Linked DNA regions of Homo sapiens. The protein of the gene in region 2 purifies or fractionates together with the protein of the main gene of each other region. This does not show direct contact. Each region holds a gene or a part of one and is shown on either strand. Other genes may lie near its edges. The genes, in order: CAND1, AIFM1, TOR1AIP1 and ACAD10.

The links.
Region 1: the proteins of AIFM1 (region 2) and CAND1 purify together in Homo sapiens (affinity purification with mass spectrometry; 2 studies listed by BioGRID and IntAct, with this or other methods). This does not show direct contact.
Region 3: the proteins of AIFM1 (region 2) and TOR1AIP1 purify together in Homo sapiens (affinity purification with mass spectrometry; 3 studies listed by BioGRID and IntAct, with this or other methods). This does not show direct contact.
Region 4: the proteins of AIFM1 (region 2) and ACAD10 purify together in Homo sapiens (affinity purification with mass spectrometry; 2 studies listed by BioGRID and IntAct, with this or other methods). This does not show direct contact.

The regions. Positions count from the first base shown.
Region 1 is NC_000012.12:67,300,341-67,307,370, reverse strand, and holds part of CAND1 (cullin-associated NEDD8-dissociated protein 1), read right to left. Parts: intron 5,049-7,030; coding exon 4,756-5,048; intron 2,767-4,755; coding exon 2,625-2,766; intron 2,268-2,624; coding exon 774-2,267; intron 1-773. UniProt on the Homo sapiens protein: Key assembly factor of SCF (SKP1-CUL1-F-box protein) E3 ubiquitin ligase complexes that promotes the exchange of the substrate-recognition F-box subunit in SCF complexes, thereby playing a key role in the cellular repertoire of SCF complexes.
Region 2 is NC_000023.11:130,128,860-130,134,869, forward strand, and holds the end of AIFM1 (apoptosis-inducing factor 1, mitochondrial isoform AIF precursor), read right to left. Parts: intron 4,597-6,010; coding exon 4,454-4,596; intron 2,941-4,453; coding exon 2,816-2,940; intron 1,308-2,815; coding exon 1,111-1,307; intron 770-1,110; coding exon 698-769; 3' UTR 503-697; downstream 1-502. UniProt on the Homo sapiens protein: Functions both as NADH oxidoreductase and as regulator of apoptosis.
Region 3 is NC_000001.11:179,906,266-179,913,295, forward strand, and holds part of TOR1AIP1 (torsin-1A-interacting protein 1), read left to right. Parts: intron 1-1,557; coding exon 1,558-1,599; intron 1,600-2,339; coding exon 2,340-2,408; intron 2,409-7,030. UniProt on the Homo sapiens protein: Required for nuclear membrane integrity. Induces TOR1A and TOR1B ATPase activity and is required for their location on the nuclear membrane. Binds to A- and B-type lamins. Possible role in membrane attachment and assembly of the nuclear lamina.
Region 4 is NC_000012.12:111,745,030-111,752,059, forward strand, and holds part of ACAD10 (acyl-CoA dehydrogenase family member 10), read left to right. Parts: coding exon 1-14; intron 15-1,114; coding exon 1,115-1,255; intron 1,256-2,019; coding exon 2,020-2,157; intron 2,158-2,265; coding exon 2,266-2,356; intron 2,357-3,287; coding exon 3,288-3,446; intron 3,447-4,143; coding exon 4,144-4,316; intron 4,317-7,030.

The DNA.
Region 1 (7,030 bases), on a different chromosome or scaffold from region 2:
TTGGTATGTAGTCCACTAAAACTCACGGACATCATTTTTAAACCACTCCAAATAACACCAGTGTCTTCAATGCCTTAGAATTCTCCTTGGCCAAGAAGGGTATTTCTTATTGCACACATGAATCCAAAGGAGCAAAATTAACTTACTTATGAGCACAAAATATAATCCCATTAGATTTCAAAGAAACAATTCCTTCTGGGAAGGAGGGACTTGAAGCAGCAGTGGACGATCTCGCCCTCACAAAATAGAACTAGCTAAATCCAAAACCGCTTAAAAATCTTCAAATTTTTTACTAAAACAGAAAGCAATGTCTAAGAATGAATGGCTATTACTGCTATTAATATTACTACCTTTTACTTGTTCTAATGGGGATGACACTGGTAAATCTGAAAACTCTTCCAGAATCTTCCATTTGAAAAAAGTACTGTCACCAATTATACTTATTGTAATTAGTATCAACAAGCTCTTCAGATTATGTTAATTCATTAGATACATCTTTTCCACATTTTAACACAATATAGTAACATTAAAATGTAGTTATCATGAGGAATTAGAACAGATTTAACCATTATCTAATTACCACACTATCCTTTAAAACAACAAAATGTCATTTGAATATCACTCCATACTACGAAAGACAGTTTTTCTTCATCACATACTTAGCTTTTAGGTTTAAGAAAATATAGACATGGCTTAACTTCTTTATTAGGTGTCTTTTAAGGCAACCAACTATCAATAAAAAACTTTTTAAGTAAGAAAATCTAGATACCTACCTGATATCAAGTACCCCTTAAGCCGTGGAAGGAGAGTTTCTGGATCAATTAGAGTGAGTTTTCCTAGACATTCAGCAACAACATTTCTGGTTCCTTCCTCTGCACACTCACAGTGCTTTAGTAATAAGGCCCAGATGTTTTCAACATATGGTTTAAGGCCCACCACTGATGCAGAGCTAATAATTTCCTTCAAGGAATGAAGTAAAAGATACTGCCTTTTGGGTTGACTAGTTATTTCTTGCAGGACAAACGGCAGATATTCAGGAAGGTTGCCCACACTAATGCTGCCTAATGCATAGGATGCAGCTGATTTGACTTCTTCACTAGGAGATGAGAAAGCTTCTAGTATTACAGATTTTAGTTCCAACTGTCCACTTAAGTCAATATGATGCCCAACTTCTCCAAGAGAAAGTAGAGCTAAGAGACGAATGGAATCTGTAGACCTTGAGTTCTTGACATCTTGAATAAACTGACCTACTACAGCTGGTCCCTCTTTAGGGCATGCTCGAGTAAGGGCAGCTACACATTTGGCAATGGAATAATAAGACTGCTTATGAGTAAGAGCTGTGCTCTGAGAGTAAACTGGACCAGTCAGCATGCGCAACAAATCCATGTATCCTAAATTATTTGTTCCAGTGACAACCAGAGCTTGGAAAAAGTCTAGCATGGCACTAAGAGCTCCCCCCTGCAATAAGGGTGATCTCACAAGTCCAATAAGTTCATTGAGAATGGATCCACTTATCTTTGAAAGGGAGGAGGGATATACTTTTGCCAAAGTGGTAAGAAAACTGATGGCCATTTGTGAAACATGCATATCACTTTCGCTGATAAGAGGTGGGAGCTCATCTAGAACTGCATCAATCATGGCAGCTGTCAAGCTGTCACTATAGTTTTTTATTAGAATATCAAGGGCAGAAAGAGTACCCAGTTTCAAAGCTCTCTGGTTTTTTCTAAGAAATGAAGCAAGGATAGGAACCCCTTCTCCCAGAACAGGCCTCAAATCTATCTTCAAAGGTGACCCAGCAATCAGTGTCAATGCCTTTACTGTAGTTAACCTGGTAATTTCATTCTTTAGTCTCTCCAAGAAAATCTGAAGTGTATTAGGCAAGTCAGAACCCAAATTGTCTCCAAGGTTGCAAATAATTTGTCCCATACAGGAAATAGCCCTTTCCTTGACTTCCTGATCAATGTCAGCTGCTTTTAATCTCTTAATGGTACAGGTAAATAGATCTTTGATATAAGGAGTTGCATCAAACGAGGAAGGCTGATCTAAAGGACGAATTACTTTGACAAGCTGTTGAGTAACAAGAAGTGCTTCAGATGTAATTTTGTAAAATGGGTCTCCAACACAAGCCACCACTGGAGGAACCAAAGCCTGAACGTGAGGATGGAAGACTTGAGGAGAATGGTTACAGAGGATTACGTATAGACATGACAAAGCATCGATCTTCAAATTCGATGAGCTTGATTTATCATTCAGTGAGAAAATGATTCCTAAAAAGCCAACAAAAAATCCAATCATTGCTGTGCAGACTTTTAAGAAAGAAAAATTAAAAATCAACCCCTATAGTACTGCTAATGTTCCCACTTCATTATATTATTTCTATAAGTAGAAATTTTCACCATCTACAATAAATATTACAGCCAAATATTTTAGGGTGAGACTTTTAACCTTTTACTTACAAATTTCTAACTTCAGGTATTCAAGATTGTTAGATTAAAAAGTTAGCTCTATGTGCATATTAAGTTGTCACATATATTCCTTTAAAAGGAAACAATTATTTAAGCTTATCTAAGTCCTAACAAAAAGGCTACAATAAGTCCCAAAAGAGATTTATGTTTCTTTCATACCTGGTACAAGTACAGGAATGTGTTGAGTTAGGGCCCCAGGTAATACATTTACCAGCTCAGTTAACATGTTAAAACAACACTGTCGGGTCTTCACACTTTTTTCTTTCATCTGTTTGTGAAGAGCTTTAACAATGTTGGGAACCTGCAATTATCATATAGTCATTAGCTGGTTCAGCTGTTGGTATTTCCTCAGTACACTTAACATGAATTATGGAGAATGAGGATAAAGGGAAGAGTTTATCTTTTTTTGTTAAATTCCTAATTCAGCTATCTATTGCTATTGCTAACACAAGATCAAGTTTGTTGCATGTATTATATATGTTCTCTTGTAACTATATTTGCTTGATACTGATAAGAAATTACAGAAAAGCTATCATTTAGCTTTCCAGAGAGCAACAAAATAGTCTTCCCTACTTAATTTTTAATTGTGAAACATACATGACTAAAAAGAAATTAATAGGCTGGGCACAGTGGCTCACGCCTGTAATCCCAGCACTTTGGGAGGCTGAGGCAGGCAGATCACGAGGTCAAGAAATCGAGACCATTCTGGCCAACATGGTGAAACCCTGTCTCTATTAAAAATACAAAAATTAGCTGGGCGTGGTGGTGCATGCCTGTACTCCCAGCTACTCGGGAGGCTGAGACAGGAGAATCGCTTGAACCCAGGAGGCGGAGGTTGCAGTGAGCCGAGATAGCACCACTGCGCTCCAGCCTGGCAACAGAGCAAGACTCCATCTCAAAAAAAAAAAAAAAAGAGAAAGAAAGAAATTAATCAAATCATATTTTCAATAAAAAATTTAGGAGGTTAATTTATAAATGGTATTTTGAATGACAACAGCACAGATAAAAATCAAAGGAAACAAGACAAATTATGGAAAAGCAACCATCGAACAGGTCCTTTTCTTACTTTCCATTTGCTGTTAGAAGGAATCAACCTCACTTCAAATGTAGCTACAAGCAGCAGGGGTATGATTAAAAGACATCTGCTCTAAACTTCCTAATGTTTTGCTAGTCAGTAAAACAAACAGGGTCTCTACTAACAAATCTTACGGATGCAAAGCTATCAACGGAGCTTCTAGAATACCTCAACAGCAAAGCAAGTACAGAGTAAAAACAAAAAGCCAAGAAAAATCCCAACAACCAAACTACATGGACACATACCCTAATTACACAATGATCTAAGAACTAGACAAAACAAAAAAAATGTCTGACTTTCCATAGCATTGTCAGAATTCCTGGCAACTCTACTGAGCAATACCTGACTTCTATATACTCACTCACTTGCATATGTCCTCCATACACTTTATCTCATTTCCTTCTACAATTAATCTTCAACATTCACCTTTATGAGTAAGTTCACCACAAAAATGTATTTATTTGTACTACTTAAAAACAAGATAGATACAGTATGTGTGTCCCGTCCTCTCCACTGGTTTAATCCCTGGCAATATCTGTTTTGTAATCTATAAAAATTGACCTACTATTTGTGCATCCCATAGGGCTGCTGTAGAGATTACATATAAGATAGGAGAATGCCTGGTATGTAATAAATATTCAATAAATGGGAGCATATAATAGCTCTAATGTTTAGGATCTTAGAAAACAAATGCCCTCAAGTGAAAAAATGTGTATTTTATTAGTAAGTACTGGCATATATCAAGCATATATGTAGTAGGCACTACACTGAATGCTCTACACAGATCACCCAGCTCTCACAACCACAGGTAGATATTTCTAAGTACGTTCTTATTACAAATAAGAAAAGTGAGGTTTAATAAAATGACTAAATAACTTGCCCAAGATCACACACCTAAATTAGAAATGAAGTCAGTTATGTGATCGCAAGTAGTATGACTCCACAGCTCTAAGACTTCTCTATTAACATCAAAGATAAAGACTACTTTACTGAATCTTAAAATTATTTAAATATTGTTTATCATGTAAAGCCAAGAATAATTCAATTAGAATAGTTTACAACTAACATAATATGAACATGCATTAACTATATAAACATATCCTAGAACTTTCTGCTTCTCTATAGATATTCTGGAACTCACCTTTCCATATAAAGACAATTTTAAAAGCATTGCATTTACTATCATGATTTTCTAAACTTTACTTTAAAACCCACCTGACTCTGAAGCATTGTTAAAGGTGTTTCTCCCTGCTCCATTGCATCAGGGTCACATAGCCAACTTTGTACAGGACGAGTTTGCTTCAAAAGAGAAAGGTATGCGTGAAAAACATCTGCCTTTACATTCTCTTCACGCTCTTTAAATCTGGATATTAGTGCAGGAGAGACGGTCTTGTAGAATTCTGGAAGCATTTCATGCCTTGTGCTAACTACAGCATCCAAGCACTTCGCAGCTGCACGTCTCACTTTCCAACTCATGTCATCATCATCACTGTATTCATCATCACTCCCTAAGGGTAAGTTTTAATGTAAACAGGCTATTAATGACAAGAGAAGTATATCATTTAAAACAGAAAATCAATTGATATTCTTAACCAAATCAGTTAATCTAACTTTCCGGTAACATATACAGCAACAGGTAGGTTTCAACAGAACTAGAACTTGAACAAAGAGCTTGTTATTTCTGTAAATCTGCACATAAATTAAACTTAAAAAACAAACATAATGGTATTTTTAATTAGTTAAACATTTTCTCATTTACTTTGTAATGAACTGCTGCTTATTTTAACCCTTTAAAATCATCAATTAACACATTCAACTTCTTTAGAATATAAATATTTATAGTCATAAATTTCCCAGCCTTTGAAACAAAATTCAAAGAACTTACTTAACAGCATAGGAAAAATCAAGCAAACAATCAGGGACTTTATAAGACAAACCATGAAATGGATTTGTGGTAATAGAGTAGGTGATAAAAAGAATGGTTACCAATCCCAAAACACTGTAGAACTAATTTGCTGGGAATAAAAAGAAGGTTGACATCAGCTTTGTGACTACAAGGCTTTTCACTCAACTTGTTGATAAGCTGTGAGGAACAAATATGTATATTCTAAACCTTTCACAATTTTGTCTTAATGTACTTTAACAAAACCATTTTTGCTTAATTATACCAAGAAAATGCTGCACACTTAACAGAGGACCATTTTTTCCCCTAATGCTAAACCTTAAACATTCAAAGCAAAAGCACTAAGAATTGTATCTCACTTATCTATACTTGATGGATAACATGTGTGTGAAATCTCCAGAAAATCTTTCTTTCTAACACCATCAGGTTTAATTAGTTGGGTAATATGAAGTCAGAAAGGTGGCAGAAATATTAGCAGTTATCATGATAGTCTAAAATTATCTCACAATAATTTCTTTATTCTTAGATAAGACTATACATAGCCTTGAAATAATAGAGCGGAGTAGTAACTTTTTACTGGCTTTTATTCCAATTAGCTTAGTTTGACAGTCAAATGTAGCCAGCTAGGCCTTAGAAGATTCTACAGTATACAACAAAATAATAAAATTTTCCAACTCAAAAGCTTAAAATTCACCTTAGCACATTACAGGAAAATACAACCAAATACTGCTAAATGCAAGACGTTTGCTTATTTACCAATATCTATTCAAATAAAGTTAAAAGATACTGCCAAAATACACTATCAAGTTAAGAGCACATAAAATTTTTTCCATGTCAATACACTATGGCAATTGCCTCCCAGAAATATAAGCTTTATTAAAAACAAGATTATAAAAAATTAACAAATGTCCTTATTCACTAAAATTACGTTGATTTTATAAATCACAAAAACACCATGGTAGAAAAGTCATTTAATGGGTATAATTCATACTAAGTGATAAAGCAGGTGAAGTACCTAGTTTGTTATACAGCACACAAAAAAACAAAATTCAAAACCTGGAATATACATTGCTACTGCTTTCTTCAAAAGATATTCATATTAAAATATAAGCTAAAGTTTCCCTTCATTAATACAACCCATTTATTGATTGCCTGTGTGTCAAGTACTGTCCTAGGCACTGGAATAAAGCAGTCAATCAAGAGATTAAAACATCTAGCCTTCATGAAACTTATATTCTAATAGGTAGGAGACCATCAATTACAGTATGTCAGAAAGTTACTAAGTGTGATAAACAAAATAAAAACAATAAAATGAAAGATAGTTCTGAGGTGGAAGACTAGCTGAGGGATGTGTGAAAAAGGAATCAGGTATGACTGCAAGGTTTTTGGCCTGATCAACTAAGAAGAATAGAGGTACCATTCTGAGATGGAAAAGGCTAAAGAAGAACAGGTTAGGTGGGAGATGGGGAAGGGGCAGGGAAAAGATATTTTAGATATCCAAGCAGCAATATTAATTAAGCAGTTGCATATGAATCTGGATTCACAAGTGAGATCTGGATTAAAGATAGGATGTGGGTTGCCAGCATA
Region 2 (6,010 bases):
TCCCCTGCAGGACCCAATCCAGTTCTGGGACAGGAGTTGTTCCAGGTAAACAAAGTCTATTCCATACATTTATTTGTTCACTCATTCGACAATGATCTATGAAGCACTTACTATGAAGCAGACCCTGTGCTAAGCTCTGGAGATAAAACCATGAGCAAGGCCTTAACATCAGGGCTTCTGCTTCCAGGAAGTCATGGGCTAGCAGGGAGACACATACACAAGGATGAGGCTTGGAAGGCTGGGAAAGTCTTCAGAGATAGTGAACTTCCTGAGAGGAGAGGAGGGGAGTCAAGTGTTGTGGGCCGAGGCCACAGCAGGTGTGTGCAAAGAGGTCTGGAGGGGTGAGGGAAGTTCGGAAATGAAAGGAGTTTTGCGTCTGGAGTAGGGCATGAATACATGGCTGAGAAAAATCCTGTGCTTGGTCGGTGCTGCAATTTGCTTGCTTTCTAATATGCGTGGCTTTCCACCTTCACCCACCTGCCCCCTTGACAAGAGAACAGAATTTAATTTAGAAGAATCAGAATTTATTTCACTATGTGAACATTAAGAATTTACCTACATAGTTGAAAATATTCACAAAGGACTTGATCATTCACACTCATACACAGAGAAAGTCTGCTGAATAAAAAAATGCTCCTTTACCCATTCGACCTCCTCTCAGGGGCTGCAGTGGGTTTGCCAATTCCACTGTGGGGCTTCAGTCTTCATGAATGTTGAATAGTTTGGCTACTTCATTGAGATCTTCATGCTGCTCACCGTCCTTAATGATCTGAGGGAGAGAGAGTAACAATAGGTCCCTAACTTACTCCATTGCGTTCAGGCCATGCCCACACAATGGGGCTACCTGGGGCAGTCCCCATATCACACTGGGAGGGAGTTGTGGGAACAGTTCTCTACTAACCCCAAACAAGCAGCCTGCCAACTCCCAGGTCACCCAGCCAAGTCCCAAGTGAAAAAGAATGTTCCTGAGCCAAGGCTATACCTTTGTTCTGCTCAGGCACAATTTGACCTGGCCGGGGGACAATGCATCTCAGGGCACCCGATGAAGTTACAGGAATGTTTCTAAGCCGTACTTCCCATCTTCCTCTAAGAGTTATGACAGGCACCTACCTTCCTTGCTATTGGCATTCGGTTAAAGATGTTCCATAGCACAATCCCCACGACCACTTTGTCCCTGAGGTAGAAGATGACACCTTTGCCGTAGTCCTCCCCCTGGACGGGAGCCTGTGGAACTGCCGGGGTGCTGGGAGGAATAGTAATTTCTGAGGCCTCGGACTCTGTCTCACTCTCTGATCGGATACCAGTTCCTGTGGCCAGCCCCCAAAACAAATAAACATGGAAGCAAAATCAAAACTTCAGTTATTATGAGCTTGGGAAATTCTAGAAGCCAACAGTCTTTCGAGGCCTGCTTCAAGCTACTTCTAGAGGATTTATTTCTCTATGCCCCCTCAGTAAACCCTGGCCTTCACCAGCCCCTCTCCAGTGACAAAGCCAAGGAAAGGTCTTCCTTGCCAGCTCCTGGGCACAGGGTCAGTCTGACCCTAAACTTCCCTCCCTTATTATCTCATTTTAAATTCATGCTATGAATATTTCCTGGTATCTGGATTTCTTCAAACTGCAGAAGGCTGGTTCTTGTCCTCTAAGAAATAATTCTAGAGCTGCATGGTCCAAATACAGTAGCCACTAGCCACAGCCATGTAAATGAACATCATTTCAAACTGAGTAAGATGTAAAATTCAGTTCCTTATCTGTACTCACCATGTTTCATGAGCTCAAAAGCCACATGTGGCTGGTGGCTAACGTACTGGACAGAGCAGAGATGGAACATTTCCATCGCAGCAGAAAGTTCTATTGGACAGTGCTATTAGACAGGTACTTTAGACAAAGCAGAAGGCACTTCCATTTGGAAAAACCATAGTGGAGGCATTTCTTCCTAGAGAAAGAGGGGAAGGGAAGGGTGGCATAGGAAGGGGGCACCTTGCTGAGAACCACCAGCCTCCAAATAATACTGTCCAGTCGACAAAGCAGTGACATGAATCCACTTACTAGGTTACTAGGAGAGATCAGAATTAAGGAATATGGAATACATTAGAATTACACAGGAAAAGGACCTACATATCCATATAATGTCTTGCTTTCTCCTTCTTAAACAGCACCTTGCCCTTGAGACACCTCTGGCAAAAGGATGCAGAAGTTAAATAACTTGAGCTAAGGTCAAGGAATAAGGTCTCGGAGTTAATGAAAGAGACATGTGTGGGAGAGAAGTCCATTCCAAGAGAGGTGCCTCCCATCTAAAGAAAACCTGGCACTAAGATCTGCCAAATGGAATGGGAGGCAGCTAAATAACTACTCAGCCCAGTTCCTCCCTGCGCAGGACCCATGGAGGATAGCCAGTCTTAAGCTAAGCCTATCAGGCCGTGTTCTTGAGATTCGCCTGAAGCAAAATAATAAAAATGACAACTGAAAGAAAGAAAAATAAAAACGCAATCTAAAAAGTTCAGGTTTTCTTGTTTTCTTCCTTAGAAAGGTCTTCCCAGAGACACACAAAACAGCAGTGTCATTGAGCTAGCCACTGTCCACTGTCTAGGACAGATACCCACAATATTTGAATCTATGCTTTGACCAGGATACCTGATTTTGCCAAATCTCAGACCACTAAAGAGTGAGGACTTGGGGTTTGGTTTCTTTTAAAGCACAACATGAAGAGAGGCTTTCACTGACAAGCCCCTCTGGCCAATACAGAAACCCCTTGTTCAGGAGAATCTGGACCACTGCTTCTCAACACTCTCCAAGAGGAGTGCTAGGACTTTCTTACCTGACTGCTCTGTGGCAGATTTGGGGTTGTCTTGTGCAGTTGCTTTTGCAAAAACACCAACTGTGGGCAAACTACTGTCCACAAGACCAATAGCTTCATAGCCAACATCGGGGCCCAAATCACTCCTAAGAAGAGAGAAGAGGGTGTTCTGTCAAGGGACTGTAAGGAATGACACGGTAGCACATATTCTCCATGACACTGCATTTTTTTTTTTTTGAGACGGAGTTTCACTCGTTGCCCAGGCTGGAGTGCAATGGGTGCGAACTCAGTTCATTGCAACCTCTCCCTCCTGGGTTCAAGTGATTCTCCAGCCTCAGCCTCCTGAGTAGCTGGGATTACAGGCACCCACTACCACCCTGGCTAATTTTTGTATTTTTAGTAGAGACGGGGTTTTACCATGTTGGCCAGGCTGGTCTTGAACTCCTGACCTCAAGTAATCTGCCCGCCTTGGCCTCCCAAAGTGCAGGGATTACAGATGTGAGCCACCGCACCCGACCAACACCGCACTCTTATGCCAACCAAAGAACTTAGTATGCAGATCACGAGAGATGCCAACTGATCTGCTGTTGCTAGAGCATCTAGGGATGACCATGAGAAAGTAAGATTAACCCTAATAGCTTTGACTTTTCCTTAAAAAGCCATTATACACGACCACATATCCATGCGGTGATTGAAACGTTCTTGAATTTATTCGTGCTTTTATCCCATGCCACATTTGGAAAGTGATGAGGTTCCCACTTTTGCTATTCACTACTTTTGTCTTGAAATTCCCTTTTTGAAGCTTTAAAGAGTGTTCCACATTTATGGAATTCAGAATTTGAGATGTTTTATGGCTTCATTAACCTACAGTATTTCCCCTTAGCCTCCACTTTTCTTTTTTTTAACTTTTAAAAACTTTTTATTTAAAAAATTCAGACGAGCTCTTGCTATGTTGTCCAGGTTGGTCTCGAACTTCTGGGCTCAAGCAATCCCCCGGCCTTGGCCTCCCAAAGTGCTGGGATTAGAGGCATGAGCAACCATACCAGACCAGCCTTCATCTTTTAGGACTGGAATGCTTTCTGACACTCCTTTTTTTTTTTTTTTTTTTTTTGAGACGGAGTCTCGCTCTGTCACCCAGGCCGGAGTGCAGTGGTGTGATCTCGGCTCACTGCAACCTCCACCTCCTGGGTCCAAGCAATTCTCCTGCCTCAGCCTACCGAGTAGCTGGGATTACAGGCATGCACCACCACGTCCAGCTAATTTTTGTATTTTTAGTAGAGACGGGGTTTCACCATGTTGGTCAGGCTGGTCTCAAACTCCTGGCCTCGTGATCCGCCCACCTCGGCCTCTGACCTATTTTGCCGGAAGTGCTGGTGCCATCTCCATTCATTCACCTAGTCTAACATACGCCAGACAGAACACTTAAAATAATTTTTTTCTCTTTTAATGTTTTACAAAAGGATCAGTTTGGTGAAAAACTAAACAGGACACTTCTGCCAGATGGCTACCTGAGGGTAGAATGTGTGGACATAAGATGGACTTTTTTCCCTTCTGTATGAAGCTAACTGGCTCATAATAAAACCAAACCATAACTCTGTGTTATGGTCCTAGAGATACTGAGTTGTAATCAGTTGGGTCTCCAAGGCACACCACTATTACCAGAACATTGACTGATGCCAGTACGGCTTAGCAGCTCCAGTCATATTTTCTCCAGCCAATCTTCCACTCACAACAGCGTGATCATGGTGCTCTACCCGCCTCCTTCCCAACTTTATATCGTAGAAGCATGCAGCATCTCCTGCCTGTGGAAACAAATACATAACATGAACACATGATAAAAAAAAAAAAAGCAAGTTAAAGACAAAATATAAACTTTGGGGGCTCAAAGAACACTTGTAATGGTAACTAATTCATGTTTTCCATCTACAGGCCAGAGTTGTACTTAAACTAACAAAAACAGCTGATAACCCATTTAAATTTTTTTTTTTTCTTTTAGACAGGGTCTCACTCTATTGCCTGGGCTGGAGTGCAGTGGTGCGATCATGGCTCACCACAGCCTGGACCTCCAGGCTCAGATGATCCTCCCGCCTCAGCCTCCCAAGTAGCTGGGACTACAGGAATGCACCACCATGCCTGGCTAAATTTTTTTTTTTTTTTTGGTAGAGATGGGGTGTTGCCATGTTGCGCAGGCTGGTTTTGAACTCCTGGGCTCAAGCAATGTGCCTGCCTCAGCCTTCCAAAGTGCTGGGATTACAGGCATGAGTCACCACGCCTGGCCTGAGATCTCATTTTAAAACATCTATTCCAGGCCAGGTGCAGTGGCAAATGCCCGTAATCCCAGCACTTTGGGAGACCAAGGTGGGTGGATCACAAGGAGTTCGAGACAAGCCTGGCCAATATGGTGAAACCCCATCTCTACTAAAAATACAAAAAATTAGGCGTGTGTGGTGGCAAGCGCCTGTAATCCCAGCTACTTGGGAGGCTGAGACAGGAGAATGGCTTGAACCCAGGAGGCGGAGGTTGCAGTGAGCTGAGATCGTGCCACTGAACTCCAGACTGGGAAACAGAGCGAGACACCGCCTCAAAAAAAAAAAGAAAAAAAAATCTATTCTGCTTCCATAAAGCTAACCTAAATCTTCTATAGTTTTGTTTACTTATGTCTACTTCCTGTTCTTTCCTTAACAGACAGGATATTTAATAACCATGATTTGCAGAATATTCTTTTCTATATGTAGAAACCAGTTTTTGGATGTGACTGCCTCTCACCTAGAAATGTTTTCTTAGATTTCTTTTTGTCACTCAGTATTCATTCATTCGACAAATATTTATGGAGTACTTATTATATACAAAAGTATTATGTTGTCCGGGTTGCTGAGACAAAACTGACATGGACCTTGACTATGAGGAGCATACAACCTAGTACAGAAAGATACAGCCTTGCTCACAACTACAGAGCAATGTAAACAGTAGTGTGCCATATGAGAGGTACAGATTAAAGGAGTCAAGTATTTCAAGCAGAGGGCGAGAACCTCCAGCCGGGGGTGAACTGGACCAGCTTCATGAAGGATGTGGCATTTGAGCTCTCTAACCCTTTGTTCATCTTTGTGGCTATTTAGACTCCCCCAAAGCAACCTAAAAATCCAACGAGTGAGCAACCGTAAACTGTGAAATTCGCTTAATGGAATATATAGTCATTAAACTGTTTACAAAGTCTGA
Region 3 (7,030 bases), on a different chromosome or scaffold from region 2:
AATATTTCTATGTTCAATGTTTTGCACATAGTAGATACTTAACAGATAGATATTCATGAATTTTTAAATTAAGCATTTCTAGAATGGCCCCTTTTTTTAAACAGCTAGCACATGTTTGTATTCAGAAAAAGTTGAAAATAAATAAATGTAAATCGATACTTGTATTTATCATCAAAGAGTAACTCATTTTCTCAGGGCAGATTTGAAAATTTACCTTGTTATAATTGTAATGTCATTTTTTAGTCATCCCATTGTGTCATTTTACAGTTATCCTTAAATACCACCTCAAAACCTGAAGTAGCATGTTTTACTTCATAGCTACTTTGCAATGTCCATAAATCTGCATAGATAGTACATACCATTTCTTTATGGTATGGTATGTGGTATATGATATGGACTGCCTGGATTTGTATCTCAGCCCAACTACTTTTAGATATATAATTTTGGAAAAATTACCAATTTTGGTTCCCCCCCCCCCTTTTTTTTTTTTGAGACAGAGTCTCGCTCTGTCGCCCAGGCAGGAGTGCAGTGGTGTGATCTCAGCTCACTGCAAGCTCCGCCTCCCAGGTTCACGCCCTTCTTCTGCCTCAGCCTCCCGAGTAGCTGGGACTACAGGCGCCCACCACCACGCCTGGCTAATTTTTTATATATTTAGTAGAGACGGGGTTTCACCGTGTTAGCCAGGATGGTCTCGATCTCCTGACCTCATGATCCACCTGCCTTGGCCTCCCAAAGTGCTAGGATTACAGGCATGAGCCACCGCATCCAGCTGATTTTCCCTTATTTATAAAATACGAACAGTAATAGCATCTACCACATAAGAATTAAGCAAAATTGGCTGGGCATGGTGGCTCATGCCTGTAATCCCAGCACTTTGGGAGGGCGAGGCAGGCAGAGCATTTGAGGTCAGGAATTTGAGACCAGCCTGGCCAACATGGTGAAACCCTGGTCAGGAGTTTGAGACCAGCCTGGCCAACATGGGGAAACCCTGTCTCTACTAAAAAGACAAAAAATTTGGTCAGGCATGGTGGTGCACACCTGTAATCCCAAGTACTTGGGAAGGTGAGGCAGGAGAATATCTTGAACCTGGGAAGCGGAGGTTGCAGTGAGCTGAGATTGTGCCACTGCATTCCAGCCTGGGTGACAGAGTCAGACCCTGTCTCAAAAAAAAAAAAAAAAAAAGAATTAAACAAAATTATACTTGATATATATGACTATATGTAGTTTTTATTTTGATGGTACTGATCCTAAACTAACTCCTTATTGTTGCCCAATTCCTAAACATTTTGAAGTTTAGAAATGAGGGGGAAAGAAATACACACACACTTTATATATATATATATATATATATATGTATATATATGTATATATATAGTATATGTATGTTTTTTATATATATATACTTTATATATTTATATGCTTGGAATTGATGAGAGAATGTTTTTTGTCTGTTGTTTGTTTTTAGTATCCACAGTAAACAAGCAAAATGTCTGTGCAACATCTTTTTTGTTGTTATTTTCAAGTATTCTATGACCTTATCCCTGTTTTCTGTTTCAGGTCAAAACTTCACAGCTCATGATAAGCAACCTTCAGTGCTAAGTAAGTAGTTGGTTGTCTGCTCTTTTTTCAGCCAATCAATTCTTTTCTCTTTTTTTTTTTTTTTTTTTTTGAGACGATGTCTTGCTCTGTCGCCCAGGCTGGAGTGCAATCTGGGCTCATTGCAAGCTCCACCTCCTGGGTTCACGCGATTCTCCTGCCTCCGCCTCCCAAGTAGCTGGGACTACAGGCGCCCGCCACCACGCCCGGCTAATTTTTTGTATTTTTAGTAGAGACGGTGTTTCACTGTGTTAGCCAGGATGGTCTTGATCTCCTGACCTCATGATCCACCTGCCTCGGCCTCCCAAAGTGCTGGAATTACAGGTGTGAGCCACCGCACCCAGCCTCAGTCAATCAATTCTAACCTTGCCTTATTCTCCCAACAAAAGTTGTAATAAGATTTTAAGTCATTTTACCCCTCTTTACCTTTTTAATTCACCACGGATTGGTACTACCTATAATAATTACTCTGTGATATGGAAATGTGTTCAGGGCTATTTTACCACAAGTAATTTGTATTATGTGATAATATATTTATTTGCTACCTGCTTTGCTGTAGGAAGTGGTTCATCCTCACTGATACGATCCTTTGAAATTATCTTTTACTTATAAAACTATTGCTTTTATTGTTTTCTTCCCCTACTTTATTTTGTCTTTCTGATAGATTAATTTTATAACACTGGAATATGGTATAAACTTTCAAAGTATGGGAAATTATCTTTTGATATATGTATTTGCTTCAGGCTCAGGATATCAAAAAACTCCCCAGGAATGGGCCCCACAAACTGCAAGAATAAGGACCAGGATGCAAAGTAAGTAGATAAATCTCTGTTATTGAAATAATCTTGTGTATTTGCTATGTTTTTCTTGACAAAAATATTTAGTTCTTCAGATAAACATTTAGGTTGTTTGTGATTTCACTAATAAAGTACAGCTATGATTACTAGTTTAGTAATTTCTTGGACTGGCAGCACATGGGCTGGGTGTAGAATGTAAATAGTGGCGTGAGAAAACCAGAGATTGGCCAGGTGCGGTGGCTCACGCCTGTAATCCCAGCACTTTGGGAGGCCGAGGTGGGTGGATCACGAGGTCAGGAGATCGAGACCATCCTGGCTAACACGGTGAAACCTCGTCTCTACTAAAAATATTTAAAAAAGAAAAATTAGCTGGGCGTGGCGGCGGGAGGCTACTCGGGAGGCTGAAGCAGGAGAATGGTGTGAACCCAGGAGGCGGAGCTTGCAGTGAGCCAAGATTGCACCACTGCACTCCAGCCTGGGCGACAGAGCGAGACTCCATCTGAAAAAAAGAAAAAAAAAGAGAAAACCAGAGATTGATGGATTTTAACAAGCTGTCAGTTATAGCAGCAATACAGTCTGTATACAATAATGAAATTCTACTCTTTTGACAATACTTATTTTTTGCTTTTAGCAGATTTTGGAACAGCTTTGTATACTCATAATTTTACATAATAAAGGCTGAAATGCACAAGTTATATTTTCATGTTTAGGGTTTTTTTTCTGTTTTTTGTTTTGTTTTGTTTTGTTTTGTTTTGTTTTGTTTTGTTTTTGAGATGGAGTCTTGCTGTGTTGCCCAGGCTGGAGTACAGTGGTGCAACCTCAGTTCACTGCAACCTCTGCCTCCCGGGTTCAAGCAATTCTCCTGCCTCAGCCTCCCAAGTAGCCAGGACTACAGGCGCGTACCACCACACCCAGCTAATTTTTGTATTGTTACACGCCTGGCTAATTTTTATATTTTTAGTAGAGACAGGGTTTCACCATATTGGTCAGGCTGGTCTTGAACTCCTGACCTCATGATCTGCCTGCCTTGGCCTCCCTGAATGCTGGGATTACAGGCTTGAGCCACTGCGCCCAGCCTTTCTGGGTTTTTGGGGGTGTTTTGTTTTGTTTTGGGTTTTTTTTGAGATGAAGTCTCCCTCTGTCGCCCAGGTTGGAGTGCAGTGGCACAATCTCAGCTCACTGCAGCCTCCGCCTCCCACATTCAGGTCATTCTTGTGCCTTAGCCTCCTAAGTAGCTGGGACTTGCATGCATGCGCCACCATGCCCAGCTAATATTTGTACTTTTAGTAGAGACGGGGTTTCGCCATGTTGGCCAGGTTGGTCTTGAACTGCTGACCTCAAGTGATCCGCCTGCTTCAGCCTCCCAAAGTGTTGGGATTACAGGCATGAGCCACCACACCCAGCCTCATGTTTAGGTTTTGGATGGATTAAATGTCACAGAATTTAAGGAATACTATAAATTGATGTGATAAAACCATCGTACTTTGAACTCACTTTCTATAATTTCTATGGAAATGCGTCCACGTTAAATCTCGACCATATTTTTTTAAAGTCCATGCATATTCTCTGCCTTAAGTGACCTTTAACCTCCCTACTTTACTCATCTAACCACAATAGGTCTTGAGGTCATCAGGTATTCTCTTACTTTTATTTAGGTAATGTAAAAATCCACATCTTATATCTCTTGCTCATGGGATGATTAACTGTAATTGGACCAAATGACATGCGTGGCTCTGCTTTTCCATCAGTAAAGTAGGAGTGGTCATAATTCATTTTTTCTCAGCAGTGACGTTTTTAGCCCACATGTAAGTGAGTTCTTAAGCAGTCTAGAACCGAAATAACTTTTTGCCCTTGTCTTACTGTTGGTTGTCATTTCTTATTGCTGTGATTATGTGCCTGCTATTAGAAAACCATTTCCTCTTATAATTTGCTCTTCCTGACCTATTATAGTTAGGAAACCAAACATTAATTATTCAGCTTATTAGAATTATGTTTATAACCAGGATCAAACATTAAAATTAAATTTGAAGACCCAAGAGATACTCTTGGATGTAAAAATGCATGAGTTTTAGTGTATATAATGTGAAAAGCTCAGAGGCATCTTGTGTCATTTCTTAGTTCTTAACTGTACATTCTGAGTAATTAATATCAGATAAATGACTTCCAGATAAGTGAAGTTAGTACATACTTATCAGAAAATCTTTGCATAATTTTTTCCTCTAATAAGACACTGCAATAGAGAAGGAAACATAATTATATTGAACATCTAATAGAAATGCAGAAATAGATCTTTTTAGTTGCTAAATTGATAGCTAATTTTTAGTATTTTATCTGTTTGCATTTCTACTTTGTCTTAAGTTACTATGTTTATTATGGCTTACAGAATTATACATTGGTTGCTAACCACCTACCATATATAGATAACCACATTGAGCTTTCAGAGTTATGTAACAGTAACACACCAGAAGTGTGCATGTAATAGGATCTTTTAGACTTTCAACCACATGAGGACTTTAAGATAGAACGATGAGCAAGAAGAAAATATTTTCAATGGAAGTGGAAGACTACAGTGATTTTTCAAACACTGTTATATAATAGATTCCTCTTCAAGAATATTAAAAAAATGTTTTCCTAGCATTCCACATTTTATCTCTCATTCTTTAACTATATATTTCTGCCCGCTTTGGTGAGGAAAAAAAAGTCATTTTTAGAGCTGAGTGTTCAAGAACCTTAGGCTATAGATTCTACCCCATGGAACATTGTCACCCGACGTTAGCAACAGTTTCCTGTAGACAGGTCCCAGTTCAGGCTTCTGCCTGCATCCAAACCTTTTAGGAAAGATGGAACCACTGTCTTTACTTTTTCCTGTTTGCCAGGTGATAAAACAATGATTATAGAGAAGAATATATGTGCATGGAGAGGTCAGAGAACTAATATAAATGTTTTGGAACCTGTCTCAGAAATTTAGATAGAGAAAAGAAGACAATTTGGAGTTAAAGCTCTTGAGCTCCAGTCCTAGCTCTTCCACTTACTAATTGAGTAATCTTGGTAAAATCACTTAACCTTTGTGAACCTCAATTTTCTTGCCTTTAGAGACAGTAGTGCCTATAACTAGATTATTGTAATGAGCTTATATGTGTAAACACAATTTTTTAAAGTCTAAAATCTCATAATTATCAGGGCTTATTTATTGTTAATGTTTTCTGTAGAATCAATAGCAACTATGGAGGATTTGTGCCCTCTACTCTTGATGGTTGTAGAGTGATTGATTATCACCATACTCTTTAGACTAGAAAAGCTTGAGTTTTTTCTTTTTCTTTTTTTCTTTTTTTTTTTCTTTTTTCTTTTTTTTCTTTTTTTTTTCTTTTTTCTTTTTTCTTTTTTTTGAAACGGTCTTGCTCTGTTGCCTAGGCTGGAGTGCAGTGGCGTGATCTCAGCTCACTGCAACCTCTGCCTCCTGGGTTCAAGCGATTCTCATTCATGCCTCAGCTTCCCAAGTAGCTGGTGGTGCACCAATACACCCAGCTAATTTTTGTATTTTAGTAGAGACAGGGTTTCACCATGTTGGCCAGGCTGGTCTCAAACTCCTGACCTCAGGTGATCCACCCACCTCGACCTCCCAAAGTGTTGGGATTACAGGCTTGAGCCACTGCGCCCAGCTGAGTTTTTTCTTTTAAAAAGATGTTTTTTAGAATTGTTGTTAGCATCTCTAGTAATGTTGATAAAAAGGATAGCAGTTATACTTTGGACAATGTCCTGCCTTGGCAGTATATACCCTGCTGTGTATGTGTTTGTGTTATATGAATTATATAAATATTATATATGGTACATAATTATTATTTAGCTGTCCTTCATCATTAACATCATAGAATTGCACTTCACAGCATTTTTGTATATATTATCTCATTTGATCTTTGCAACCATGGAGTGAAGTATTCAAAATAAACATTATCTGATGGATTTGGGTTTCATGTGGTTAGGTATTTTTATTGTTATTTTAGTTGTAACTTCGATAACCTAACTTAGAAGCTTCTAAATAATGAAATATCCTAAGCTAAACTAGTAATTGAAAAACAGTATTCCTCTTACAGTTGCTGTCATTTTGTCTTACTACATCATTATGGAGTTTTTTGTCATATGATCAAAAATAAGGCTATTTCTGAATCTTAGCAGGGCTAATATTATTCCTCCAGTTATTCCAGTGTTTCTCAAATGAAAGTTGTTGATATAACGCTAAGAAGATCCACCAGGAAGTTCATTTATATATACAAAAGTTATAAAACTCCAGGCAAGTGATAGACGGCAATACTGGTAATATAGGTCATACAAATGAGATAACTCAGCCTCTCCACCTTCTGAAGCCTGTCCTTCCATTTCCTCTCTTAGATTTTAAAACCTGCTGGTATGCTAAGAAAGATGGAAGGGAAAGGGAAGGGTTAGGATCATTTTTAATTTCTTTTCTTGTTTTTAATTTTTTTTTTTTTTTTTAGAGATGGGGTCTCACAATGTTGCCCAGGCTGGCCTTAAACTCCTGTGCTCAAGCTGTCCTGTCACCTCAGCCTCTTGATTTGTCGGAATTACAGGCATGAACCACTGTGCCCGGCTTAATTTATTTTCTAAATAGATTTAGATGAAAG
Region 4 (7,030 bases), on a different chromosome or scaffold from region 2:
TCGAAGACCTCAAGGTAAAGCAGCCATGGTGAGGTGGTAAGACCCCAATACCATGGCATACCCTCCCCGACCCCACCGGGCTCACCTGAACCATCCCAGGCAGTGAAGATACAGGAGCTCCGAGTTGAATGATCTTTGCTTCCATCGTCTCAGAAAGAGCCAGCTCTTCATGACTCAGTTTCCATCTCTTGCTCTTGCTGTGCCTGTGTCACAGGCAGATGGCTCAGGTGTGACTGCACAGCCCAGGCAGTGGAATGCTTGGCCTTAGAAAGCCAGGGCAGGTTAGGCCTATCTGATGGGTATTTGAATTATGTAAATTTGAAACAGTGCTGTATCAGCTAATAAATCTCTCTCTAGAGAACCCGTAATATCACAGCTAGAGGGCCAGATCCACTGTGAGCTGAGTTTCTGTGTTGTCTCCCAGTGCTGTCACTTCAGCTGATAAACAGAAACACCCGCTGTTCCTTATCACGTGAACCTTGGATTGTGTTAGTTTTGAAATTACTTGAGATCTTCAGGAGCATAATGCAATCATCATCTACTTTTCTTTTTTTCTCTTTTTTTTTGAGACGGAGTCTTGCTCTGTGCAACTTCCGCCTCCCAGGTTCAAGCGATTCTCCTGCCTCAGCCTCCCGAGTAACTGGGATTATAGGCACGTGCCACCATGCCCAGCTAATTTTTGTATTTTTAATGGAGATGGAGTTTCACCATGTTGTTCAGGCTGGTCTTGAACTCCTGACTTTGTGATCCGCCCGCCTCGGCCTCCCAAAGTGCTGGGATTACAGGCGTGAGCCACCATCTCTCTCTTTTTTTTTTTTTTTTTTTTTTTTGAGACAGGGTCTCGCTTTGTCACCCAGGGTGGAATGCAGTGGTGTGGTCATAGCTCACTGCAGTCTCAACCTCCTGGGCTCATGTGATCCTCCCACTTCAGCCTCCTGTGTAGCTGGGACCACAGGCACAGCCACCATGCCCAGCTCCTCATATCATTTTTTTGGGCACACGTGCATGTTTGGTTGTCTGCCTTGTTTCCTCCAATCCCTTTCATTGTTTTCCACGGTTCAAAATAAAATGAAATCTTCCACTGTGGTTTCCTGACTTATTTTCCCCATGATAGGAGAAAGCCAAAGCTGAAGGACTTTGGAACCTTTTCCTACCCTTAGAGGCTGATCCCGAGAAAAAATACGGAGCAGGACTGACCAATGTGGAATATGCACATCTGTGTGAGCTCATGGGCACGTCCCTGTATGCCCCCGAGGTACCTTCTTTAAAGTTTTCCTCAGTGTGTGGGAACATCCTGATCTTCATAAGAACTCAATCCTAAACAGATAAACCAGATTCAGAAGCACTGGCATGAACTTGAACTTTTTTTTTTTTTTGAGATGGAGTCTCGCTCTGTCACCCAGGCTGGAGTGTAGTGGCGAAATCTTGGCGCACTGCAACCCCTGCCTCCTGGGTTCAAGTGGTTCTCCTGCCTCAGCTTCCCAAGTAGCTGGGACTACAGGCATGTGCCACCACACCTGGCTAATTTTTGTATTTTTAGTAGATACAGGGTTTTACCATGTTGGCCAGACTGGTCTCAAACTCCTGACCTCAGGTGATCCACCTACCCTGGCCCCACAAAGTGCTGGGATTACAGGCGTGAGCCACCATGCCCATCCAATTTGAAGCTTGAAATATTAATGTGAGAAGGCCAGGCATGGTGGCTCACACCTGTAATCCCGGTACTTTTGGAGGCCGAAGTGTGGGGGATCACTTGAGGCCAGGAGTTCGACACCAGCGTGTGCAACATAGAACTCTGTATGTACAAAAAAATAAAAAATTAATCGGGTGTGATGGTGCATACCTGTAGTCTCAGCTGCTTGGGAAGCTGAGGCATGGGAGGATGGCTTGAGCTGAGGAAGTCGAGGCTGCAGTGAGCCATGATCGTGCCACGATACTCCAGCCTGGGTGACAGAGCTTGACTCTGTTTTTTTTAGAAGAGGACATGACAGTCATGGTCACGCTCCTTTTCCTTCTCAGGTATGTAACTGCTCTGCGCCTGACACGGGCAACATGGAGCTGCTGGTGAGGTATGGCACCGAAGCGCAGAAGGCTCGCTGGCTGATTCCTCTGCTGGAGGGGAAAGCCCGCTCCTGTTTTGCTATGACCGAGCCCCAGGTACGTCGCCTGGGCTGCCACCCACTTGCCTGGCCCTGTTGTTGTCGGCCCCACAGGGAACACGGGCTGTCTGCTGGCGTCTCTGACTGGAATATGCTCCCCACTCAGGTTGCCTCTTCAGATGCCACCAACATTGAGGCTTCCATCAGAGAGGAGGACAGCTTCTATGTCATAAACGGTCACAAATGGTGGATCACAGGTATTTGGCCTAAAATGCACTTTCCAAATGCACATCAGGGAGTCTGTGCTGTTAGGCGCGTCTCTCAATGCCTGGGAGGAGCCTCTGCTTTTTCAAGTTGACACAAAGGAGATTCTGTCACTTAGCGCCCCCAGCAGAGGCAGCTGGGAGAATAGGAGGGTAATCCGTGGAGCACACTGTTCTCAGAGGTGGCACTTCACAGGGCAGGGACGTCCCCCGGTGCCCACACATGGACGGATGCCTCCCTGCACATGTGACCCCAGGAATCTCTCCACTTCCTGCTGTTCATTCTGCTTTGGGCAGCTCCCCTTCCTTGGTGGCTTCCTGGCTCCTCGATCAGGTGTGTTACATCCTAAGGGCTAATGACAATCCTGACTTTTAGGGATTGTCCAGTGTTACTTTTGCAGGGCCCCTACAAGTAGCCGTGGAGCTTACCTCCCGGAGCCCATACCTCCCTGGACATTAAGAATGAGCATCCCCATTTTGCAAAGGAGGAAACCGCACTCAGACTTAGGTCCCTTGCCTGGGGTATGAGCCCCCAGCCAGCAAGTAGAGAACCCAGAGTCAAAGGTTCACCTGATTCCAAGGCCCGGGCCCAGAGCCGTTATGTGTGCACCACCTGTGGGAGCCGAGCCAGCTGGCAGGGATCAAGTAGCGGTTTTCATCCTCTTGTCTCTAAATTATATTTTCTACTCTATGTGATGCTTTTAAAAACTTGCTCTTATGATGTTGGATTCATTCCTCACTGGGACAAAACCCAATTTGCTCTTATTTCTGGTCAGCAGTCTGCAGATGCTCATCTGATTACATGGAGCCTTAAAGAGCTCTGTCTGCTTCCTTACTGTGCCTTTCTTGGGCCAGGACCACGTGTGTAGAGATTTGATGGCCCTGGTGTCAGATGATGGGGTCTGTCTCTCTCCTTTCCTGGCAGGCATCCTGGATCCTCGTTGCCAACTCTGTGTGTTTATGGGAAAAACAGACCCACATGCACCAAGACACCGGCAGCAGTCTGTGCTCTTGGTTCCCATGGATACCCCAGGGATAAAAATCATCCGGCCTCTGACGGTGTATGGACTGGAAGATGCACCAGGTGAGACCTCCAGGGGCGGGTCACCCCTGGGTGTGGGTCTGGTCCCCAGGAAACACCACTGAGGGGCCCCTGCTCTTGTTCAGGACTTGCCACATCCCACGTCTGAGGGTATGATGACATTTGGAGTCACATGCTCCTGCATTTCATTTCCATACATGAATATCAACCATGCAGGCGGATTTCAGACAGGCATTTATGGATTTTTTTCCCTCTTCTAAACTTAGAAAGTAATCAGGAGTCTGTGACACAGGAAGCCATACAGGGCAGACGCAGGAAGTGGACCCCAAACCTACTCTTCCAGGCCCCAGTGTGAACAGCTGACCTCTAGGCCACAGCCCTGGTTTGGTCCGCTCCCAGTTTGGTTCTCTGCTAATAGTGTTCACATTTTTACTTTCAGTGTTTTCATAGGATCACTACATTGTCACAAACCACTAGGAGCTTCAGCTTAAGGTGGCATTATTATGTTTTTATAAAAGGAATCACAGAATAGTCATTTGCCATTATAAATCAGTGATTCATTTTCTGTGTTTAACAGGCTGTTTCCTGCCGTCCTTTTCCCTTTAACCATGTCCCAGTAAGAAGGCTAAATAAAGGGCAGGGACATTGCCAGCAGATAACCCAGACTGAGGTGAGGAATAAACACATCCAAGGAAAATGACTATGGCTATTGCTCACAGTGATCGTTTGGGTCTTTCAGGTGGCCATGGTGAAGTCCGATTTGAGCACGTGCGTGTGCCCAAAGAGAACATGGTCCTGGGCCCTGGCCGAGGCTTTGAGATCGCCCAGGGCAGACTGGGCCCCGGCAGGATCCATCACTGCATGAGGCTGATCGGGTTCTCAGAGAGGGCCCTGGCACTCATGAAGGCCCGCGTGAGTGCTTTCCCCCGCACCCAGCACTGACTCAGAACCACCACCTTCTGCTTTGCTGTCGGACTTCAATTCCTACCTGTTTTCTGAGTGCAGTCCTAGCAGGTGAAGCAAGGTGATGTCCTTGCCAAGAAGTTGCATTCCTGTCTGCTTTGCATCTGCTACTTTGCTGCAGTTTGGATTCAGAGCAGAATGGACCCCACTCTGTCGAGGTGACCTGAAGGGAAACGCCAGGCTCTGTAGCAGCAGAGGCAAGGTTCCAAGGTGTAAAGGTCATGCTGCTAGCACATTATTAAAAATCAGTCTGGGTGCAATGGCTCACAGCTATAATCCCAGTACTTTGGGAGGTCTAGGTAGGAGGGTTGCTTGAAGCCAAGCATTTGAGACCAGCCTAGGCGAAAAAGAGAGACTCAGTCTCTACAAAAAAAAAAAAAATTTTTTTTTTTTTTTTGAGATGGAGTCTTGCTCTGTCACCAGGCTGGAGTTCAGTGGTGTGATCTCGGCTCACTGCAACCTCCACCTCCCGGGTTCAAGCAATTCTCCTGCCTTAGCCTCCCAAGTAGTTGGGACTACAGGCACGTGCCACCACGCCCAGCTAATTTTTGTATTTTTAGTAGAGACAGGGTTTCACCATGTTGGCCAGGAAGGTCTCGATCCCTTGACCTCGTGATCTGCCCGCCTCGGGCTCCCAAAATGCTGGGATTACAGGTGTGAGCCACCGTGCCCGGCAAAAAAAAGAAAAAGTTTTTTTTGTTTTTTTTTTTTTTGAGACGGAATCTCACTCTGTTGCCTAGGCTGGAGTGCAGTGGCGCGATCTTGGCTCACTGCAACCTCTGCCTACTGGGTTCACACCATTCTCTTGCCTCAGCCTCCCGAGTAGCTGGGACTACAGGCACCCGCCACCATGCCTGGCTAATTTTTTGTATTTTTAGTAGAGATGGGGTTTCACCATGTTAGCCAGGATGGTTTCGATCTCACCGTGTTAGCCAGGATGGTCTCGATCTCCTGACCTCATGATCCGCCCACCTCAGCCTCCCAATGTGCTGGGATTACCGGCGTGAGCCACCGTGCCTGGCCAAAAAGAAAAAGTTTTAAGTGCCAGGCATGGTAGCATGTGTCTCTAGTCCCAGCTACTCAGGAGGCTGAGGCAGAAGGATCGCTTGAGCCCAGGAGTTTAGGGCTGCAGTGAGCAGTGATCACACCACTGCACTCCAGCCTGGGTGACAGAGTGAGACCCTGTCTCTTTAAAAATAAATAAATAAATAAAAATCAGACACCAGGGAGATCCCATGTTGCTTGTTTTTGTCCCTAGGCTTCCATCATCTGGCCTGTACCACCCTCCTCCACAGCACATCCAGAAAACTTTATTCGGCCATAATCCTACCACCCCCAAAGTTTGGAAACCTAGGTTAAAAGACAGCTGCTTCCAGGACAGGAATTCAAATTGGTGATTATCAATTTCAGAAAGGTGACGCAAACCCTGAGACCAAAACCAGTGTCTCACAAGAACTGCTATTGAAAGAACAGAGGCAGTCTGAATTTTTTATTACCGAGCAAACCTGTGATTTACACCCTTTTGAGTTAAGACTGACCAGTTATTTTTTCTTTCTAAGTAAAACGCTCCTGTCTATGGACTCAGGTATGGTGCTTCAGCCCCACATGGAATTAAATTCAGCCTTCTGGCAGAATAATTGGACTGAATGAGTCAGACAGAAGTCTCCAGAAAGTGCATAGCATGAACATGGCACCTCCACTGAAGACTTGGTTGGAGTAATTAGGAATCTACAAAAGATTTGCTACAAGGAGGTTCACCACAGTGCTTATTGAAATAGCAAAATTCTGAACAACCTATAAGGCTAACAATGACTGTTGGCCAAATAAAACACAAGATGGCATACAGTGAGACTTTAAATGATGCTGTGGAAATCTATTCCTTAACATGGAGAAATTGCTCACTATATACACTTAAATTTAAAAAAAAAGACTGTGGCCAGGTGTGGTGACACTCCCAGCACTCTGAGAGGCCGAGGCAGGCAGATTGCTTGAGCCCAGGAATTTGAAACTAGCCTGGGCAATACGGCAAAACCTCATCTCTATAAAAAATAAGGCTGGGCGCGGTGGCTAACGCCTGTAATCTCAGCACTTTGGGAGGCTGAGGTGGGCGGATCACTTCAGGTTAGGAGTTTAAGACCAGCCTCGCCAACATGGTGATACCCCGTCTCTACTAAAAATACAGAAGTTAGCTGGGCATGGTGGCACATGCCTGTAATCCCAGCTACTTGGGAGGCTGAGGCAGGAGGATCACTTGAATCCAGGAGGCGGAGGTTGCACTGAGCTGAGATTGCACCACTGCACTCTAGCCGGAGTGACAAAGCAAGACTCCATCTCAAAAAAAAAAATTAAAATTAAAAAATTAAAAATAGTAGCCAGGTGGGGCTGGGTGTGGTGGCTCATACCTGTAATTCCAGCACTTTGGGAGGCCGAGGTGGGCAGATCACCTGAGGTCGGGAGTTCGAGTCCAGCCTGACCAACATAGAGAAACCCTGTCTCTACTAAAAATATAAAATTAGTTGGACGTGGTGGCGCATGCCTGTAATCCCAGCTACTTGGGAGGCTGAGGCAGGAGAATCGCCTGAACCCGGGAGGTGGAGGTTGCGGTGAGCCGAGATCGCACCATTGCACTCCAGCCTGGGCAACAAGAGCGATACTCTGTCTCA